Linked DNA regions of Homo sapiens: region 1 is linked to region 2. Evidence: fine-mapped expression QTL. Tissue or cell type: tibial nerve. Region 2 holds a variant in brackets; the other region holds the start of a gene. All regions are shown on one strand. Distances are between the middles of the regions.

Region 1 (2,622 bases), 860 kb after region 2:
TGTCTCAAAAACAAGTAACAAAAACAAAATGTAACTCTAAATGTAGCCTATTAAACTCAGCTTAGGTCATTTAAATTATTCAATACCCATATTAATACCTTCAAAGCAAACTAATTCCACTCTGGTTATAGCAAGTTGGGCATTTCTGGGCAAGTGGTTTGACTGGAGTCAGGATGTCCTCTTTTTGTGAAATTATGGCAGTAGTGCCTGCTTTGCTAGAATACTTGGTAAACTAATTTAATGAATATCTGTAAAGTACTTTGAGCTCCTTGGAGAACACTTCCATATATAAAGAAGCCTTATGACCTGCCTGCAACTGCAGATTTTGCAAACGTGATCTTACTTTTTCTCTCTTTTGGGATATGCTCCCCTTTAAACTGAAGCTCAACCTCCTGAAGGGGGTTTCTTACTAGGAAAAATCAGACAATTTGAGGAAATAGCTATCACCTCCAAGATCCCGGAAGCAGTACTAAATAAGAGACCTCAGAACAAGGCAATACTAGGTATCTCACCTATCCCATTACCAGTCCAATTTCTCTCTCCACTTAAAGGAGGCTTCCAGGTCTAGCCTACAGGAAAGTTCACTTATTAACCCTCAGGCAGAGTACTACCTGCTAACCAGGTTAACACACATTTCCTTCGTAGCACTGTAATTCACAGTGCAATGACAGCAATACGCTTCTATAACTACAGCTTCAGACTGTGCTCCTCAGCCTTACTCAGAATAGGCTATCAACACTGACTCGTTAGGATATTCAAGGGGGTATATGTATGTGTGTGGGGGGGGAATTCCCGACACCGATTTCACCATGCTTCTGTGGTCACTGCAGGAAAAAGGTAGAGCTCTCTGTTCTCTATCATCGCTCTCTTTGGAATATTATTCTCACTTCAAGCATTCTGCCTGAGCGAAGCCGTCACTTCTCCAACACATGGTCACAATTCTGAAGCTGCCAGGCGACTGAACGCAGTCGGCAGCACCCACCACTACCGGAGACTCAGCCCCAATCCGAAGCTTCTCCCTTAGTCAGGGATTGGGGCGCTGGGTTCCTGGTGTCACCGCCGGGCGGCGACCCCACCACAATCTCCCCAAAGCGCCGAAGCATGTCAGCCCGAAGATCTTGGCTGTCGCCTTTCCCCGAGCCTGCGGTGCCCGACAGGAGCCCGAGTTCACGCCGCCGCGCGCCAGAGCAAGAGGACGCGCCGCAGCGAGGGAAGCGGGGGCCGGACTGGGGCCCGGCGCCCTGATAGGGAAGGGGCGTGATCGCAGGCTGCTCGCGGCGAGGGCGAGACCGGGCGTGGGCTGCCAAGAGGCGACGCCGTGGAGCCCGGGGAGGGGACGTGGGGGTGAAGACAGGGGCAGCCCAGCGGCTCGAGGGCAGGCAGAAACGGCCGCGGCTACTCACTGAGCCAGGACTCCAGGCTTTCCCCTTCCGCCTCCGCCATATTGCAGCCGCCCGGCCCCGCGGCTTCAAAACTCGCGAGAGTCTGCACGAGCTGAGACGGGGCGGGGCCTGCATGGGGTCCTGAGAGGAGTGAGTGCCGTCACCGAGGGCCGCGCCAGACTGCGACGGATACAGGGAGGGCAAGGGTTTCCTTTTGGCGCTCCCCTTTGGACCCCGGAGTGAAAAACTCTAACGTCCAGATCAGTGGAGAGAAACGCAGATTTAGGACCCTGAGGAGTCTTTTTCACCCGTTTCCCGTCACTCGCTCAGGCGCGCCGAGGGCAGTCCTTGTGGGGTCCTCGTGGCCAGCCAAGATGGCTGCCCCCGCAGTGAAGGTTGCCCGAGGATGGTCGGGCCTGGCGTTGGGCGTGCGGCGGGCTGTCTTGCAGCTTCCAGGGTGAGAGGGTGGCGAGCAGCGGCGGGGGGGCGCTGCGAGGAAGGAAGGGGGCCACAGGCAGGCCGCGTGGGCCCCTAGAGAGAGCATTGCCCTGGGGGCCGGAGTATCTGGATTCAAGCTTCTAAGTTAGCTGCGTGACCCTGCGCCAATCCGAAGGTTTAGTGACTACCTCTCGCCTAAGGAGTCTGGCTGATCTAGGGTTCTAACGCGGAGCTGAAAGTGCGGTTCAGCTAAAGAGCTCAGATCTGGGATCGCCTGTGAATTGGGATGGGTGTGTAGGCGCCAAGCCCATCCTTACCGTTAGCACTTGACCAGGAGGAGACTTTACCCGCCTGCTTGGGGAATGTCCTCCTACTTGGGACAAGGGCCTGAATTGTTGTGGCTCAGGTTTAGCTCGCGGTCTCCGCGCCGCTCCCCCTCGTCGGCGCGTTGGCAGTCATGCCTATTGTTAAGTCAAACCTACTCGCTTGTGGAGTCAGCTTTTGCCTGCCTCCTCCTTTCCCCCCCTCCCAGGCTAACTCAGGTGAGATGGAGCCGCTATAGTCCTGAATTCAAGGATCCCTTGATTGACAAGGAATATTATCGCAAGCCAGTGGAGGAGCTAACTGAGGAGGAGAAATATGTTCGGGAGCTCAAGAAGACTCAGCTCATCAAAGCTGCTCCAGCAGGGAAAACAAGTTCTGTGTTTGAAGACCCAGTCATCAGGTTAGATGGAAACAAACACTTGTTACATGGACTGGGACTATCCCAGGGAGGGTTTCTGGTGAGGATTCTGTGATACAG
Region 2 (2,753 bases):
ATGGTGGCACTTGTCTGTAGTCCCAGCTACTTGGGAGGCTGAGGCAGGAGAATCGCTTGAACCCGGGAGGCGGAGGTTGCAGTGAGCCGAGATCGCGCCACCGCACTCCAGCCTGGCAACAGGGTGAGGCTCTGTCTCAAAAAAAAAAAAAAAAAATGGTGAACCCCTGGCTCGGTAATGGAATAAAATGACACCAGTACTTGAGAGGCAAGCAAGTTCCAGGATAGAACGAGGTGGTGGAGGGAAGCGATCATTCCATTTTACATTCATATTTTGCAAACAGTTTCTCCTTTTCTGTTGCTGCTTTCAATCCAGAGGCAGTCCTTTCTTTTCAGATGAAGAAATGGAGGCTCAGAGAGGGGAGGTGACTTTGTGGAAGTCACACAGCAAGTGGCTGAGCCAAGACTCACAACCAGGTATTTTTGTTTTGTTTTGTTTTGTTTTGTTTTTTGAGATGGAGTTTTGCTCCTGTTGCCCAGGCTGGAGTGCAGTGGCACGATCTCAGCTAACTGCAACCCCCACCTCCCTGGATTCAAGCGATTCTCCTGCCTCAGTCTCCTGAATAGCTAGGATTACAGGCACCCGTCACCACATCTGGCTAATTTTTGTAGTTTTAGTAGCGATGGGGTTTCACCATGTTGGCCAGGCTGATCTCGAACTCCTGACCTCAGGTGACCCACCTGCCTCGGCCTCCCAAAGTGCTGGGATTCCAGGCATGACCACCACACCCAGCCTTGTTTTGTTTTGTTTATGAGACAGGGTTTTCCTTTGTCACCCAGGCTAGAGTGCAGTGGTGCAATCTCAGCTCACTGCAACCTCTGCCGCCAGGGTTCAAGCAATCCTCCTGCCTCAGCCTCCCTAGTAGCTGGGACTACAGGTATGCACCACCACACCCGGCTGATTTTTGTATTTTTAATAGAGACAGGGTTTCACCATGTTGGCCAGGCTAGTCTCGAACTCCTGACCTCAGGTGATCCTTCAGCCTCAGCCTCCCAAAGTGCTGGAATTATAGGCATGAGCCACCAGGCCCGGCTGCATCCAGGTTTTCGGGCTCCCCATCACATGGTTTTTTCTACCTCACTCTATAGCAGACAAGACCTGGGGTCTTGGGTCACTGCTATCCCCATTTCCACCTAGAACATGATCTAGACCACAGT[A/G]CATATGGGCTCAGGAACCAGCTGTCAGAGAATGGCGTCAGATTCTAGCTCAGCTACATCCTACCTGAGTGACTTTTAGGGGAGTTACTTTTTGGACTGTGCTGTGGTCTGTTTGTGCCCCACCTAAATTCATATGTTGAAACTTACTCTCCAATGTGATGGTATTAAGAGGTGGGGCATTTGGGAGGTGATTAGTGCTCTTATAAAAGAGGCTGGAGTGCTGGGTGCGGTGGCTCATGCCTGTAATCCCAGCACTTTGGGAGGCTGTGACGGGTAGATCACCTGAGATTGGGAGTTGGAGACCAGCCTGACCAACATGGAGAAACCCCGTCTCTACTAAAAATACAAAATTAGCCGGGCATGGTGGTGCATGCTGTAATCCCAACTACTCAGGAGGCTGAGGCGGGAGAATCGCTTGAACTCAGGAGGTGGAGGTTGCAGTGAGCCAAGATCGTGCCATTGCACTCCAGCCTGGACAACAAGATGAAATACTGTTTCAAAAAAAAAAAAAAAAAAAAAAAAAGAGGCTGGAGGGAGCTTGTTCACTTTTGCCCTGTGAAGACACAGCAAGAAGGTGCTATCTTTGAAGCAGAGAGTGAGGCCAGGTGCGGTGGCTTATAGCGGTAATCCCAACACTGTGGGAGGCTAAGAGGAGAGGATCACTTGAGCCCAGGAGTTTGAGACCAGCCTAGGCAACATGACAAAACCCTGCCTCTACAAAAAATCCCAAAATTAGCCAGATGTGGTGGCACATGCCTCTATTAGGGAGGCTAGGTTGGAGAATTGCTTGAGCCCCAGGAGGTTGAGGCGGTAGTGAGCCGTGATCACACCACTGCACTCCAGCCTGGGGGACAGAGCGAGACCCTGTCTCAAAAAAAAAAAAAATTTTTTTTTCCTTTTTCTTAATTCACCTCCCCTTCCTTATTTCTATTTACTTTTAAATATTAATATATAGTAAAACTGGCCAGGCACAGTGGTTCACACCTGTAATGCCAGCACTTTGGGAGGCCAAGGAGGGCAGATCATTTGAGGTCAGGAGTTCAAGACCAGCCTGGGCAACATGGTAAAACCCTGTCTCTACTAAAAATACAGAAATTAGCCTAGATGTGATGGTGGGTGCCTGTAATCCCAGCTACTCAGGAGGCTGAGGCAGAAGAATCACTTGAACCTGAGAGATGGAGGTTGCAGTGGGCCAAGATCGCACCACTGCACTCCAGCCTGGGCCCTGGGTGGCAGACAGAGTGAGACACTGTCTCAGAAAATAAAAATATATAAATATAAATAAATAAATAAAATTAATATATAGTAAAGTTGATTTTTGTTGTTGTTGTTGTTTCGATTTGCATAATCACCTTCACAATCAGGATACAGCTAGTTCCATCGCCCCAAGAAACCTCCTCAAGAGTCCCCTTCAGGGAGCCACATTCTTTCCCCACCCCAGCCTCTGCCTAGAAATGGCTAACATGTTCTCTGTAATTTTGTCTTCTTGAGAACGTCATAGAAATGGACTTTTACGTGATATAACCTTTTGACTGGCTCTTTTCTTTAGAATAATGCCTTTGAGGTTCATCGCAGGTGTTGTGTATATCAATAGTT

Evidence for each region. PIP is the estimated chance that this variant, and not a neighbour inherited with it, causes the effect.
Region 1: GGA3 starts here. The variant in region 2 is fine-mapped to the expression of GGA3 in tibial nerve (GTEx, PIP 0.97).

Annotation. Positions count from the first base shown.
Region 1 is chr17:75,260,145-75,262,766 of GRCh38, forward strand. It overlaps GGA3 (golgi associated, gamma adaptin ear containing, ARF binding protein 3), which reads right to left and starts at 1,462. Exons shown (of 17, transcript NM_138619.4): 1 at 1,404-1,462. The coding sequence starts at 1,443. MRPS7 (mitochondrial ribosomal protein S7) reads left to right here and starts at 1,735. Exons shown (of 5, transcript NM_015971.4): 1 at 1,735-1,839; 2 at 2,353-2,544. The coding sequence starts at 1,757. RefSeq lists enhancers at 868-967, 1,438-1,847, 1,644-2,521.
Region 2 is chr17:74,396,391-74,399,143 of GRCh38, forward strand. No RefSeq gene overlaps it. Among named protein-coding and RNA genes, the nearest start is that of GPR142, 30 kb to the left of the region's middle. The variant A/G (reference allele first, on the strand shown) is at 1,158.